Regions from separate parts of the Homo sapiens genome. Here regions 1 and 3 are each linked to region 2. The links come from fine-mapping of genetic effects on gene expression. A gene starts in region 2. Each other region holds a variant in brackets. All regions are shown on one strand. Distances are between the middles of the regions.

Region 1 (5,468 bases), 310 kb before region 2:
CTGCCCTCATCTTCTCACCCTGCTTCCCCAAAAGTCACCCACTGCTCTTTAGTTCTTAGTTTCTAGGCCACCCACTCTCCAGAGCCTTCCTGATTCTTGCTGCCATGAGGCAGAACTCACCACCATCATGAATTGGCTCTCCTTATCCCCAGACAGACCCTAGCTCTTAATACTATTATCCCATTGGTTTTGTTTGTGTTCAGATCTGTCCAGCTCATTGAAATGGGGGTTCTTGGAGGGTAGGGACCAAAACTTTTCCACTTTTGCATCTGATCTAGGGCTTGGCATATAGCCAAAATTTTAAGTAAAGGAATGAAAAAATACATGTTTTGAATATATCAAACTCATGCAATGCACGCCCAAATAAACTCTGCAAAGAAAAATGCTAATGTGGATAGTCTCTGAGAAGTGTGAGTTGTCCCTGTCTCCATGGCAGTCACAGGTTTCTAAGGGACAGGGCCATCTTTGCTTTCCAAAATTTTCCATTTTAGGTTTGATAACCCATGTTGTCCCTGCCATGACGACCAAGCATTCTGGGTTGCTGAAGCTACTGATGAGGCAGGCGTGGGTGGCTGCATGCATTCAGGGTGGATTCCACATGCTGTTCTAGGCAACAGGCCCCATAAGAGGCATTTGAACAAAAATCTGCCTTGCATCTTCCACCAGTGAGAGAGTATTCCAATTTACTCTTGAGCAATGACAGTACACTAGGGGCGTGGGGTCCAAAGTCTGTCACTTAGGGTGGTTTACTGTAAGGGATTACGTTCTTGCGGCTGTTGTGAGAGTAGCAGTTTGGAATAAGTCGGGCGGAGCAGGTGTAATAAAAAAGGAAGGAAGGTTAGAAAATGGATAAATACTATATTTGGGTCTTGAACTAATTTTCCAGGCCAAATTTAATTTCACTAGCACCCTCTCTTGGAAAAGTTGGCACCTCTTAGATATTTGAAGTGGATTCTAACCTAAGGGGGAACGGTCCCTAAAAGGAAACATGGATCATGGTTGAGAGGAGGTCAATCAGAGGAGAATGGCGTGAGCCCAGTGGAGCCAGCAGGCCCCTGCCATGTGTCTGGTACTTTCCTCTGGCTTCTGGCCAGATATGTGGTTCTCCCAAGCCATCAAGATAGTCAGGTAAGAATAGCACCAGGCAGCGGGAAGTATTCTCCATCTGTTAGACTGAAAAAACTGCATGGTTTCTTCCCTCATCTAAACCAAATCAAATAAAATATTCAAGCAACAATAAAATATAGCGTAACTCCGTCCAACTGCAACAGAAGCTCATCCTGTTTTTCTGGTCTTGACTGTATGATCAGATGCATTGACCTCTATGCACTGACCTTCATAGCTTGCCACTGCTGAGTAGGGCCTTTGGAGTTCCTAGCAGGGCTTAGAGCAGACTGCACAGGTCTGGCAGGCATGGCTGGGTGGAGAAGAAACCAGACTTCCTAGGACCGGAAGCAGCAGGCGGCAAGAAAACCAGCCCAGCAGGCACACGGGGACCCAGAAACTACTTTTCCTTGGAGGTTTTTCTATTTTAGTACATGTATCTATCTCCATTTTAAATGTTCCTCAGTGAATGACCTCCTCTGGAAGGTGTGAAAGAATATCCATTAGCAACCACAGGAGAATCTTTTTCCTGGGAAAATTCCTCAAGAGTGGTGTGACTACCATCCCAGGGACCAGCTGGTTGCCCTTGTGTGGAACGTTTCTGCAGGCTTTTTGACTGTAAGGGCTGGGAAGCCCTGCCATAGTGTGAGTGAGGGGAAGCTGGAGGGCAATTACTGGACACAGGGCAGTGGAATCGGGGGACTGGAATGTACAGATGACACTCAACCAATCTTTAAAAGTCAGCACTAGAGCGAGTTATTCCATGATCAGATGGTGAGAAGGAAGTGATTTTTATGGAGGGGCACGCTCCCTCCTGCTAGGAAGACGTTAGCAACCCTGTCAAATGATTCCTTAGGAGCTCCTGGCTTTCCAGTTATTATTTTGCCTGTTAAGTGTTCCTAGCAAGCTCCTCGGGGGGACCGTGAGAGGAGGCTGCTTCCACTCCTTCGCTAGCTGTGAGGAAAGCCCGCATGCCATGCTGTGGCCTTCTGGAGCCCTGTCCCCCAGGGTGCCTCAGAGCCAGCGTTCCCTGAGAGCACACAGCCTCAGCTGAGAGAAGACAGCAAACCCTGTCCCCTAGAGAGGCATTTTTGCAAAATGTGCTTACTTCATAGGAGGGAATGATATTGGTAGAAAAACAAAACAAAACAAAACAAAAAACAAAACAAAACCCAAACCTTCTTTGTCTCTACGTAGGAGTTACAAAGATCTGTCAATTTCAGCAGAGAGAGACTTTTCATCCACCCTGGGCATGTTCAGCTGAGATGGTGTAGGAGTTTGTAGCAGAAGAGAGAGAACTCTAGCATTCACTTTCTAGGTTTATTCCATCCCGTACATTTTTGTATTCTGTAAATCCAATGATCTTACCAGGAAATCTTTTCATTCACTTGAAACCAAACAGATAATCGAGGGGCTGGATCTAGTGTTGTATGTACAATGCTTCTTTAGAGCACAAAAGGCAAATTAAAACTAGACTGAGTTTTCTGTTCGGTACTATATGAGAATAATTAAAATTTTAAAAGACGACACAACAGAATTCAGAGCCATCCTGCAACAGCGGTCTTTAAATTTATACCCAATTGCTGATAAAACTCAGCCCTGGAGTTGTCTTCCTGTTATTCTAACATCTTTTTCACATTCATCCTAAAATCTTAGGAAAAAAAATCCAAAATGCAAAGAGTTTAAAAAACTTTCTTTTTTTTTTCTCTCAAAGCAAATAGTTCCATAAAACACTAGGTCAAAGGGCCTCAGTGTGTGTGTACTGAGTTTGAAGGGCCAAGCAATAATCTATAAGAGTGACCTATTAGCAATATATTTGCAAAACTAAACCAAAATCTGTACAGGATATTATCAAAGCCTTAGGAACAACAGAACATACATATTTTATGAAGTGGTTGGAGAACCATCTCCCCTTTAGTAGTTAACGTACTGATGAGTGTCCCCATTTTCATAAGCAAGGACATACTAACACTAAGCAGTTGAAAGGCCTGTCTCAGAAGCATCCTGCCCCAGGTAGCTGATCACGGTGGCCCCATACCACGACACAGCTTTTCTTTTGGTTGGTCTTGCTGAGTGCCTTCTCTAGATTTGGGCTGTCATTCAAGCCTCTTCATTTACAATGTTCATTAAAAATTC[G/A]GTACCATACCTGTCCCACTCCCAACCATTTTTTACTTCCTGATTCTTTTGTTTGCCTTGTGGGTAAAATGCAAATGTGTCCAAGGTGAAAAAGCAAACCAATCAACCTTTGAGTTTTTTTTCCAGCGCCAGGAATGTGACATGAACAAAGGTCACTGAAGCAGCATGAGGAGTAAGTTAGCAGGGCCCTTTGTTGTGTGTGTATGAGTGTGTGCCTTTACCTAAGCTCTGTCCCCTTACAGAAATGGCCGTAGAAGGCCTAGTGTGCTGGTTGCGAGAGGTTTTCCAACGTGATTCTTACCCCAAATCATAACAGGTTCATTCTCTGAGGTTCACCCACCTTCAAAACACACAGACAAGGGCCTTAGTTCAAGACTAACACTGAAAATGTCACAGACATTTTCACGCATTGGACACACGACAGCTTCCAGGAGCTTGTGGGTCTATTCGTTATCAGAGATGCTACAGACTTCTTAACAGCTTGTGTTAGGGAACTGTTCTTCTTTCCTATCCCCGGAAGTGTTGCACCCATACACACAAACCCACATCTAAGAGTGTCTCCTCCACAGGCTGAAAAGAACGCCTCTTGGAATGTCAAGCATGAATATAAAAGGGTTTCCCGTGACAGTGATCACTGAATCATGGGGAAGGAAGCTAAAAGGCAAATTTGCAATTCATCACATTATCCCCTGTTGTCTCAAATGTGATTCTTTTAAAGGCAGGCTGCATATACACTCTCTTTTTGAAGCATTTTTTTTTCTTCTTGTAACACATTGTATATTCTTGTTTTTGTAGAATATTCGAATGAGGATAAAATGATGAAAATTACAATAGGTTAATTGCATCCCTTGTATCACATATTTTTGGTGCATTAAAAAAGGAGAAAAAAAGTAAAAGCAACCAGCATAATAAATCCGGCCTAGAGAACTGTGTTAGTGACTTGAAGGGTTAACACAGATTTTAGAAGTAGTTAAAAATAGTATTAGAGGATTATACATACAACAGTTTGAAATTCATATGGATTGTATTTTTTTCTTTTAAAAATGGCAAAATGTTTTTGGCAAATGTAAGCAAATGACTTGGACTGCGTTGGGTCTCACCAGCTCTGAGCCGGGTCAGTCATAGCCAGGCGAGGCCTACTGCTTCCTGAGGTCACTCTGTGGGGCTGGGGGAAGGTGGATGCCCGCCACTGGGAGGTGCTGGCCCCCCACCTGGCTCCCCCTCAGGCCCTCAGTCTTGAACATGGAAATGGAGCTGGTGAGAGGTGCCAATTACAAACTCCAGCACGGATCACCCATTAGCATCACTGAGAGAACTCTGGGGCCTTGAACCACATGCAGACTGGGTGAGTCGTCTACACAGTGACCCATATTGCGAAAGTCAGAGAGAGGAGTGGTGCTTCCACCCCTCCGACTTGTGCGCCCGCCCCCACCCCCACCTGGAGGAAGAGGGTGGCACGGGGTGTGTCACTAGTGCTTAATCTGGCAATGTTTTCAACTTGTGGGTTTTTTTTTTTTAATTTTTTTTATTTTAGGAAACTTCTTTTAAAAAATGTTTTCTGTTTTGTATGTGTATGTGTATCCAGAAATGTCCATCCTCCAAGCTGGCCACCACTGTTCCCTGAATTTGGCAGTGCCTGTTGCTTGCAGCTGTCAGCATCCTGAAAACCATGAGGTGCCTTCAAAGTAGACTCTGTGGCCCAGCCGCGCAAGTGGCCTCCAGGACCCTGCCGCACGATGTCATTCTCTCCTTATTCTGAATCCTGTCTGGCTCTGATGCTGAGAAAAAGGACAAAGTCGGTGTGTCTGTCTGCGTGTGTGTGCATCTGTGCCTGTGTGTGTGTACTGAGTTTTGGTTTTTTTTGGAACCTTTTTTTCTTTTTTTAAGAAAAAAATGACCCTTGGATTACTAATACAGAGTTCAGCCCTCCTTTAGTCACTATAAAACGGACTCCATGTTTTCACACCACTCATGGTCTTCCAGGTTATAGATAAACTTTGTCCTATGTGTCTGGTTTGCGGGCACAGGGTCCCTCCCCAGGTTGTCTAGGGTCAGAGTAGAGGCAAAGAACTCACTGGTGCTCAGCCCGCCCTCGTGGTTTTTGATGTAGCGTTTATAGTTTTTCCTCAGGCACTGCCACGTGGTGGTGTACAGGATGAAGGCGAAGGATTTGAGCGCGATGGCGATGCTGACATACAGGTATCGGTAGACCACATTGTCGTAGAGGA
Region 2 (5,468 bases):
TCCATCAGCGAAGGCTAGAAGTGCCAGGATGCCGCCACCAGGTGGACCGAATTCCTCCTCTGCTTGCCATTCCCCTGTTCTGGGATTAAAGTCAACCTCCTATCTCCTGGGGCCAGCCCTGCCTCCAGAAGTCCACCACTCCAGGAGTACTCGGCTTCTTAACTTTCTAAAGGAGCTAGGCCATTCATCTAGTTGCAGCCCAGCTTCATTTATTTGTCAAATCCTTAGATCACTGCAACCGAAAAATAGTAAGCCCACGCTTTTATCACTCCTGGGGTGAAAAGTTCTGCGGGTGTTTGCCACACATGAATAATGCACTCTACCGAGCAAAATTGGTTTGAGGCAAACAAACCGTTAAAGTGGAGGCAGCTGTTGATATACTAATTACCTCCTTCTAAACATAGACCCGGTTAGGTATTATGTACTTTGCATATGTCACAGTACAGACCCACATATATTTTATTAATGTGAATTTGCATCTCTGTAATACATGTACTTATTTAAATATTTTAACAGTTAAATTTCCCCTAAGGAAGTGCCGATAAACTGACTCCCAAAACACAATTATCCCCTATCCCTCAAATTCCAAGGGCTAATAGGTACTGTCTGCAACTGCATATTATAACTATAGACACAATAAGTGTATTTTATAGAACAGAAAACAAGGTATGCTTTTGACTACAGGGTTCACTTGCAGTCTACAAGTTACGAATGCACAAGACAGAGACCGGGATGTAAACGCTTTTCGTCTCAGAATGAGCAACAGAAATGTATTTGATTTTCAAAAGCCCTGAAATTCTGTCACCCCAGGAACAGAGCTGAGTTTGAAGACCCCCTCTCTCACAACCACCTAACTTCCTCAACACCGGAGACCAAGCACTGCTTGTATTTCCCTTTAACAGTGAGCCCTGAGCCTTAAGAGATAGTTTATGAATGGTATACAGCCCCCAGCGTCTGGCCCTCATGAACTTTACCCCAAGGCCAGGAATGAGGGATTAATCATAGCATCAGGATACGCGTGGTTCTATCTCTGGATGTGGTTATTCAATGGCCAAAATCTTGTCCAATTCTATCTCCATCAAACTTGCTCAGGAATACTCAAAGTCTATGACATTTGATTCCAGTTGCGGGTCAATAGCCAAGTAATGATTTAACACTATAAACTCTCAAAAAAAATTTCCCGTTTAGACAGGACTGTACTTAGGTGTGGAAGCACGCTCTCTGGAACTCAAGTTGCGACCACCTGAGCAGAGGAGGCGAAAGCGACAAAGTAGGTACCTGACAGTGCTGAGTCATTACAAGCTGTTTCCTCTGAAATGTTACGCACCCATGGGCCCTCTGAGCATTAACATCCCCTTTCTGGAGGCAAATAAAATACATATTCATTGTGGAAAATGGTGCAACCTTCTGTAGGCGACAGACCACGATGGGGAATTTAGCACTAAGAGTGGATAGCAGGAACTACACAAACTCGCAGCTGCTCTCTAGGTACCGTAACTTTATCCCAGACGCTCAAAGAGGGCTATAGGGATACCGGGTGGCAATATTCCCCCTGCAGCCCCGGCTCAGGCCAGGGCCACACTAGGGCGCATTTCACTCTAAGCTGTTATATCCCCCTGTAATTGGCGGATGTAGAAAGCGCCCGGAGAAAATGATGCATAATAGATTTGTTCTCGAGGAGGATGCAATGGAGAGTAGAGGACGCAGGATGCTAACTGGTTTTTCTTCCCATGTGCAGGTCACCTGAAAACCCCGACGCTTTTTCGTTCCTCTCCAAGGAGAACCCTGAACTCACCGTCTCGCTCCGCTCTTATGGGGGGAGAGGAATAGTTTCACGCCCACCTGCCCGCCGCCTCTCCTCCCCCGGCACCCCCTGCCCCAGCCGGACGCGCGCGAGCTGCTACCGGCATCAACGGTCCCGCCCGCTACCCGCTCGCTGGCAGCCCCGGCCGGCAGCTCCCCCGGCGGCCGCCTCTGCACCACTCGCCAACCTCCACGCCGGGCCGAGGTCATGCCCGCCTGCCCCCAGCGCCGGGCGGCCCCCTCGTCGGGCCAGGCGGCCGCTCGAGAGCCGGGCTGGGGAAGGGGCCCGCGGCGGAGTTGGCTCGGGGACTCACCAGGTAGGCGCCCACCGTGCCCTGCGCCAGCATCAGGGCGCACTCGGACACCAGGAAGATCTTGATGTTGGAAAAGCAGGACACCTTCTTTTTCTTTTTCTTGTTCCTCTGCGCCTCGTCCCCCTGCAGCTCGCCGCTCCGGCCGCCGCCCGACGAACCGCCCGGCTTCTTCCCCTGCATCCTTCCCCCGCCGCCGCCGCCGCCGCCGCCGCTGCCGCTTTCCCGCTCGCCCCGGGTGTCGGGGCCGCTGCCGGGCGGGGGTGCGCGCCTCGAGGCTGCGTGCTGTCCCCGCCCCGGGTTCGCGGCGGCCGCCCCCGTCCTGCCGGGGCTGGAGAGGTGGAAGGCACAGCTCCTCGCCGCCGCCGCCGCCGCCGCGATCGCCCCTTCCTCCTCCTCCTCCCCCGCCTCCGCCCTCCCCTGGCCTCCTCCTCCGGCTCCGGCTGTGCCAATCACAGGGGCTCGTCGCGCCGCCCGCCGCCGCCGCTGCCTCGCCTCCCGCGGCCGCCCGCCGCTGCCATCGCCCGGTTCCCCTTGCCCGCCGGCCGCGCCTGCTCTCACCCCCTCAGCCCCAGCCCCAAGGCCTGGGCCTGGGCCGCCGCTGCGCGCCCTCGCCGAGCCGCTCCTCGCTGCCGGTGCGCCCCCGGGGAGGCACGGGAGGCGGGCTTGGGATGCGGAGGGCGGCCCGGCGGCCGAGGCTGGGAGGGTCCGGCTGCCGGGAGAACTGGGGAGACCCGGAGTCCTTGCGGAGTAAGGGGGGTGCCCCTGAGGGCGGGAGGCGGCGCCCGGCCCCTAGGTGGCGCTGCGGGGCACGGGGCCCCGCGGCGGAGACTGGCGGCTCTGCGCCGGGCGCGGAGATGGGGTGCGGAGGCGCCCCCGCGGGGCTGGGACCCGGCGCTCGGGAACCCGGGTGCCCAGGCCTCAGAGGGCAGGCTGTTCCCAGGAAGGGAGAATACTGAGTACCCAGGAAGGGCTTGGCGCGCGCTCTTCTCCGCCCGGGGATTTCTGGGGACAGATGTTGTGCTCTGGGTCTTGGGGAGGTGCCAGAGGTCAGAGCTGCTTGAGGCTTCTGCCGCCTGCCGGTTTCTGCCCCAGCTGTCCCCGGCCACAGGGGGTGTTGAAAAGGCCCCAGACCGAAAGGACAGAAAGGGGAAGTTAGAGGAATACGTCGGGAGCCCCACGGACCGTTAGTGCCCCAGCCTCGGTGTCCAGGCGCTGCAAGATCGCCGCGGCCCCAGCAGAGGGCCTTCTCCGGCCCTTCATCCGCCCAGGGCCCCGCTGCTGGAGCGCTCAGCAAGCGGCCAGCCGCAGGCCTGCTGGGTCCCCACCCGTCCCCTGGCTCTGTGGCCCTGGCCACCATCCTCGGCCTTGACCTGAATGCCTGGCCCATGGCAGCCGCTCCTAATTACTCCCCACTCTCACCGTTACCAAGGAGTGTGGGCCACAGGGCACTACCAATAGGATCTGCTAGTTCTCAACTGCAGCGTTTGGAAGCTGAGAGAAAAGCTCAGAGGGCTGGACAGGTACCAGGAAACAGCACCTTCCACCTGGGCCATTGGGGGACTCAAGGAATCATTTAAAACGGTTTCCTTAATAATTGTGTCAAAGAAAATGACCCACTCTCCCAAGCGCCTGTGTCCAAATGCAGGCTCAACTTCAAAACTGAATAGCAATGAACCCGACCATATTTTTCCTTTCTCCCGAAGAACTTGAATGAGAATGGAGGGTGTAATGGTGGGGATGTTGTTTTGCCATGGCATTTAAATATAAACTGCTTCATCCTTCTGTGGCTCCAGACGTGATCTCACCCAGGCTTGGTGTCGCTTTGAGATGCCCTCACCTTGTCTAGGCCACCTCCTATCTGAATTGGCTCCCCCCACACTTGAAGTCTCTTCCCGTCTTCCCCACTTCCTGAATCAGTGGTCACACCATTCCCGGCCAGTCCTATAATGAGAATCCTTACTGCCCCCTTCTTTCTTCCCCACACCCTCCTATCACTCGGAGCCAACTTCTCTGCAGGATCTTTATGTCCCCCTCTTTCCCTCCCCATCACTTTGCTTCATGGGCTACCTCCCCACTTCCTCCTGAGAAGACCCTTGACAAGCTAGCTCTGTTCCCTGCCTCTGTGACGGTAAGCTGCAAAGCTGAGCTGAGACTTGTCTACGAATGGTGACCCCATTGCTAATGAAATGTGCGGAGTGCTTTATAGTCTTCAACTCTTATTTACATTCTTTGTAATAACAAGAGCTAATGTTTACTGTGTGCTTATTATGGCCAGACACCATTCTCAGTGCTTCACCCGCATTTACAACGTAATCCTCACAGCAATCCTCTAAACCAGATACTATTATTAGCCTTGTTTTACAGATGAGACAACTGAGGCCTAGAAAGGTTAACCTGACCAGTGTCACTTGTCTAGTAAGTGGCAGGGCAAGTCTTTGAAAACCAGGTTGTCTGCCATCATAGCCCAGGTTCTTTATAACTACATACATATTATCTCGTTTATCACGCAGTGTGGTTCATCTGATGGGGAGGCTGGGACTTATGTTGTTCCTCTTTTATAAAGCTGGAAAGGAACAAAACTTGCATCCATGTCCAGCCCTTTTTGTTCTTTTTTGTTTGTTTGTTTGTTTGAGATGGAGTTTCGCTCTTGTTGCCCAGGCTGGAGTGCAATGGTGCGATCTCGGCCCATGGCAACCTCCACCTCCCGGGTTTCAGTGATTCTCCTGCCTCAGCCTCTGGAGTAGCTGGAATTACAGACGTGCCACCACACCCGGCTAATTTTGTATTTTTAATAGAGACGGGGTTTCTTAATGTTGGTCAGGCTGGTCTCGAACTCTGATCTCAGGTGATCCACCTGCCTCAGCCTCCCAAAGTGCTGGGATTACAGGCATGAGCCACCACGCCCGGCCAGCCCTTTTTGTTCTATGCCACAATGCCTCATGTACAGACTGAGAAGGGCACAGCCTTCTTTCAGCTTAACCATTTATTTTAGATTAAAAAATTAGCTGTCTTTAGAGAAATCACACACTTTTGCTGTCAGATAAAGGATTTCGGATTAGGGTTGTGGATTCTTCCTATAATTAATGGTAAGCAGCCATGAAAGTAATCCTGGTGCCTGAAGCCTAAAGAATCATCAAAGTCAGCCTCAGGGAAATCAGGCTGCGGCCTCACAACAGTCAGAAAGAAGGAATTTAACAAGTTCAACTCCCTTCCTTCTTTGCTCATCCTTTATTTACTTGTAGATCAGGGCTCCAGGGATGATAAGGTGGGTTTATGAGCACCAAGTGCTTCTGCTTGGCATTCCCCTAGCCCCGTATGCAGATAGAGGAAGCAGCAGAAAAATAGTAAACA
Region 3 (5,468 bases), 210 kb before region 2:
CAGGAGGGGCCCGGGGCAACATGTAGTGACGTAAGGCAGTGGGAGCTCCAGGGAGGGCTGGGTGTGAGTTGGGGCGCTGTCTGTCAATGCCATCTGGATGGTGGCAGATGCGTGACTGCCACAGGGTTGCCAAAATCCAGATCTTGCCCTGTATCACCCAGAGCCTTGACATGACCATGTAGCTAAACCCTTGTGGCTCCCAAAGGGGAGGCCCTTGTGTAAGGATGTACATGTGCATCCACAAACAAACCCATAGGAGCGTCTAACAGGGTGATGGGTTGCCTAGGAGGACAACCCGGCAGGCTCCTGGTCCTTCTGGCCTGTTTTGCTAGCATGCTGTTCAACTCTCTGCTTTCCTGAGGGCCTGGAACCTCCTGTAGCTCCCCATCTCCACCACGGTGGCCAGTGGGGATGGACAGTGGGTGCACCTCCTCCACCTCTTAGCTTTCTTAGGATCTTCCCAACAGCCAACAGCCCTATTAGCTCTTTGGGTTTTAGAGATTTCATAGCTAATCCCAGTAAGAGGACACTTCTGGAGTGATTCAGTGAACAAACGCTTGGGAAGTCTCAGTCTCTCAGGACCTTCAGAGGGGCAGCTACTAAGGAACTAGGAGTTTGAATCAAATGCCAGTGGGGAGTGGAGAGAAGATCTCTTCTGCTGTGCATCTCTTCCTCTTTGATCCCTGGGATGGAACTCAGACAAGCCCTCCCTTTCATCCATGTCCACATTCATTTCTGTCCACTCTCAGTCTGATATTTGTGATCCTGAAATATTATTAGGGCTGAGCTGTGGGCATGAGCCAGTCAGCCTCTAAACACCCCTAGACTCATGGAAGGAGAGGGGAAACCCAGAAGAACAAGGATCATTTATTAGGCACCTATGTATACCAGACCCCAGTGCAAAGGTAGAAAAGAGGGAAAATGCTAATTCACAAACATTAATTTACAAACACTTACTCACCGAACACGTATAAGGCACGTCATTAATTACTGTGGATGTCAAAATATGAGACAGTGCCTGCAGGAGCTCAGATCCAAATATAGCCATGAACTGTGTAACAAATGTTTCAGTCAATGATGAACCTCGAATACAATGACAGTGGTCCCATAAGATAATAATGAAGCTGCAAAATCTCCATCACCCAATTATGTCTTGATGATCCTGATTCTGGGTAGGCCAAGGTTAATGTGTATGTTTTATCTTAGTTTTTAACAAAAATGTTTAAAAAGTGAACAAAAATAAAAATTTTATTAAAAAGTACCGGCCGGGCACAGTGGCTCATGCCTGTAATCCTAGCACTTTGGGAGGCTGAGGCGGGCAGATTGCCTGAGCTCAGGAGTTCAAAACCAGCCCGGACAACATGGTGAAACCCCGTCTCTACTAAAATACAAAAAATTAGCCAGGCATGGCACTGTGCGTCTGTAGTCCCAGTTACTTGGGAGGCTGAGGCAGGAGAACTGCCTGAACCCCGGAGGCGGAGGTTGCAGTGAGCCGAGCTTGCGCCACTGCACTCCAGCCTGGGTGACAGAGCGAGAGTCCGTCTCCAAAAAAAAAAAACTCGGCTCACTGCAACCTCTGCCTCCCAGGTTCAAGCGTGCCTCAGCCTCCCGAGTAGCTGGGATTACAGGCGTGCATCACAGCGCCCAGCTAATTTTTGTATTTTTAGTAGAGACAGGGTTTCGCGATGTTGGCCAGGCTGGTCTTGAACTCCTGACCTCAAATGATCTGCCTACCTTGGCCTCCCAAACTACTGGGATTACAGGCATGAACCACCGAGCCCAGCTGGCTAAGGTTAATTTATTTGTGAAGAAAATTTTTTTGAAATAAATGTAGTGTAGCCTATGGTACAGGAGTGTACAATACTGTCCTAGGCATTCACATTCACTCACCACTCACTCACTGACTCACCCAGAGCAACTTCCAGTCCTGCAAGCTCCATTCATGGTAAGTGCCCTCTATAGGTGTACCACTGTTTATCTTTTATGCTGTAGTTTTACTGTGCCTTTTCTATGTTTAGATACACAAATGCTTACCGTTGCGTTGCAACTGCCTACAGTATTCAGTACAGTCACATGCTGTACAGGTTTGTAGCCTAGGAACAACAGGCTACACCCTATAGCCTAGGTGTACGGTAGGATACACCATCTGAGTTTGTGTGAGTACACCCTGTGATGTCCCCGCAATGACAAAATTGCCTAACGACGCATTTCTCAGAAAGTGTCTTCATCATTAAGCCATGCATGACTGACTACAGTGATATGCACTTATCAGGCTGTGTTAGGGCTCTGGGCAGCAATGCTGGTCTGATGAGGTCACAGGGTCTTCTGTGCTAAAGGAGGCCTCAGTGTAGAGACCCCTGCATCGATACAGCCCTCTTCTCTCCACCAATGTGAATTTTGATATCTAAATCCAGGGAAGCCAGCCACTAGGCTTACTGTGGAATGAGCAGCCCTGGGCTCCTCGTGTGCCATCTGGTCGGGGGCACAGAGCTCACGGTGGGCACACTGCCAGCCGCTGCTCACAGGCGGGATAATGAGTGAAGTGACAA[G/C]CTTCCCTGAGGGCCAGGCATGTGTCCTGTGAAGCCCTGGGGAAAAGTGCTGGACAAGGGTGACGGAAGAAGCATGGGGAATGTGACACTCCTGAGGATGGACCCATGCTGCCAGAGAAAGTGGTGTGTGCCCCGGTTGCAAAGGGCTTTGGGAAGTTATGGAACCCAGCCCCCTGCCTGAGGGCAGAGAGAAAGCTAAACCAGCCCAGCCACAGGGCACCCGACAGCTTCTTGGAAACAGACAGGTAACAGTGTCCTTGCAGAAACCTGTTCTAGCACGCTGGCTTTGGCCTTTCTCTGTGACAGGAAACACCCCCCTAGGGAAGAGGTTGATCTACTTGGTAAGAGAGGGTGGAGATGGAAAGGGGAAAGCTCAGTTACCCCGAGACTTCCAACTGCTTCCCCAGCTGCTGATATACCATGACAGAGCAGTGACAGAGTGGGTTGGATAGTGCCTTCAAACAGATACTGCTCCAACCCTGACGCCAGCACTTGTGAGTGCGATGCATTTGGAAATAAGAGTCACTGAAGATGAAATGAAGGATCTCAGGATAGGCTCTAAATACAATGACTGATGTCCTTCTAAGAGAAAGGAGAGAAAGACACAGGCACAGAGGGGAAGGCCATTGCAGGCAGAGATTGAAGGGACGTGTCTCTAAGCCAAATAACACCTCGCATTGCCAGCAACCACCAGAAGGCAGGCGGGGCAGGCACAGATTCTTCCTTAGAGCCTCCAGAAGAAGTTAACCCTAAGACACCTTGATCGTGGAGTTCTGGCTTCTAGGACTGTGAAAGAATACATTTGGGTTGCTTTGAGCCACCCAGTTTATGGTACTTTGTTTCTGCAGCCCCAGGAAAGCATTATCCCTGATGGGGACTATGGTGATGTGGGTTTGGAATATTCATCTCCCAGAGAACACTAGGTGTCCCTACGTGAATGGGGTGATGGGCCACATTTGCCTGTTCTTCTCTTCCATGGGATAGCAGGTGGGGTCATCCAGTGGGGTGTAGCCATACCCTGCGGGACACCCAACATCCTATCTTCAAGGTCATCTGAAGGCCATTCCCTTAAAAGGAATGGGCTTAGGGGATGGGTGAGGGGTAAAACTCAATCATTTGGTTGATTTTAACTTACAGAATAAAAGGGGAAAAACTCAATAATGAACCCCATTTATTCTTTATGTATAGGGTTAGAACTCACAGACAGGCCTCTTTCCCTTAAATAGCAGAAAGGGCACTGAACTTAGACTCTCAGGACTTGACCTCAGTTTCTGGATCTGTGGAAACACCCTCCACCTTCTAGAGATGCTACACGGATCAGGCGTGCACAAACACACACACACACACTCACACACTCTCACGCTTATACAGGAACCTAGCGCAGCATTAGAAGATGGCTGCATTTAATCAATAGTGATGATGAGGCTCAAGTCCAAATTCAGCTGACCCCTTACCCGCTGTGTGACCACGGGCAAGTCACACCACTTCTCTGCTTCTTGTTTCCTCACCTGGGAATCTGGGGACAATAGGATGTATCATACTTACAATAAAAAGGAGAGATGGCAAATGCCATTAGCTTTGAACACTGCCCAGCAAAGAGTTGGGCTTTGTTTAATAATAAGCATTATTATTAACCATCATCAAAGCTGGGTCCACATTCAGGTTCTGTTAGTCCCCTGGTGTCGCCGAGGGCAAGGCCCCTCTCCCTTCTGCAACCAAATGTGCTCATTTGTCCACTGAGAAATGGGATGGCTCTGACAGCTCATGCAGCCTCTGATTATCAGTGATTCTTTTAGCTGGCTGGCACATGAGGTTCTAGGAGAACTCGCATCAAGAAGCAGCAGACATTCTGGTCAATGTCTGGAGGCTCAAGCGCTGGGTCTGGATGGGGCTGGATTCTCCATCCCCAAAGGTGGGGCCTGAGGAAAATCTATCTCTCTGGGACTGTGTCCTCACAGATGGACTGGTCTCCTGGTCTGCTTCTGCACTTCTGGGAAGATAGGCACATCAGTCCCTGGGACCCTCTCCATGTTGGGAGTGAAAATCCACTGTATTTTGTTTTTTTCCAAGGACTGTGTGTGATGCTTGGAGCCTGCCAATATTCTCAGTTCTAACCATTATCTTCAGGAAAAAGCAAGCACCTTGAGAGTAATAAGAAAACGAATACAGTAATCTCTCTTCTAAGCTGGCTTTTCCTGAGATCCCTTTGCTCAGTGAAATGACGGGCTGCCAGGCTGCAGGGCTGCCCTAGGGAAGGGGCATGGGACCCACTCTTCCCTCTGCAGCCTTGCCCGAGTTCCAGCCTTCTTACCGGCAGTCCAGGTGGCAATCAGGCCCCAGCACCTTCGGCTTGGAATGACAGAAAGCTAAGAATGGACTTATGTGCCTGCCAGGCTTCCTGAGACGGGCACAGCAGAGCAGCTGGCTGGGTGCTCTGATAGCCCAGAAGGGCAACTGCCAGGCAAGGGCTACCTTCTGGAAGGGCACAGACAGGGAGACCTTGAGATGTTTGGGAATGTATTTTCTGGCAGGAGGGAGAAACTGACATGATGTTTGTCTTTCCATTATGAAAGAATTAACTGGGTAACACAGTAAAGAAACCTAAAAGCCAAATCCTTCCACAGTAAAGAAAGCTAAAAGTGGGAAGGGGTTGAGCTTGTTCTCTCCAATCAACTCTGGATGCTGCAATTTATCCTGAGGATCCTGAAGTCCAGGTACTCCCATAAACCCTACCCATGCTGCTGCCAGCAAGGCTTTCTTAGGCAGGGGACAGTGATAAGAGGTGCCTTTTCTCAGCGGAAAAGTGAAGGTAGAGCGGTGAAGGTCTGAACAGACCTCAACTGGATATTAGAACAATTGCAAATTGTTTGAAAGGGAAATTATAGGGAACATGGCTTTGGAGAGAAGGAAGTCCAAGAA

Alleles and levels. Alleles are on the strand shown, and positions count from the first base shown. SD is a standard deviation of normalised expression in the study named. Not every link is listed here.
For the expression in cerebellum of the gene that starts at base 2,498 in region 2, C is the low allele of the variant in region 3 and G is the other (small effect, 0.30 SD a copy in GTEx).

What was found. PIP is the estimated chance that this variant, and not a neighbour inherited with it, causes the effect.
Region 1: its variant is the best candidate, but not a certain one, in a credible set for the expression of SLCO3A1 in whole blood (TOPMed, PIP 0.83).
Region 3: its variant is the best candidate, but not a certain one, in a credible set for the expression of SLCO3A1 in cerebellum (GTEx, PIP 0.72).

The regions. Positions count from the first base shown.
Region 1 is chr15:92,162,846-92,168,313 of GRCh38, reverse strand. It overlaps SLCO3A1 (solute carrier organic anion transporter family member 3A1), which reads right to left. Exons shown (of 10, transcript NM_013272.4): 10 at 2,411-5,468. The coding sequence ends at 5,179. Among named protein-coding and RNA genes, the nearest start is that of ST8SIA2, 230 kb to the left of the region's middle. RefSeq lists an enhancer at 2,918-3,675. The variant G/A (reference allele first, on the strand shown) is at 3,241.
Region 2 is chr15:91,850,738-91,856,205 of GRCh38, reverse strand. SLCO3A1 (solute carrier organic anion transporter family member 3A1) reads right to left here and starts at 2,498. Exons shown (of 10, transcript NM_013272.4): 1 at 2,118-2,498. The coding sequence starts at 2,297. RefSeq lists silencers at 2,894-3,033, 2,902-3,076.
Region 3 is chr15:92,056,595-92,062,062 of GRCh38, reverse strand. The region is part of intron 2 of SLCO3A1 (solute carrier organic anion transporter family member 3A1); the gene reads right to left. Among named protein-coding and RNA genes, the nearest start is that of SLCO3A1, 210 kb to the right of the region's middle. The variant G/C (reference allele first, on the strand shown) is at 2,550.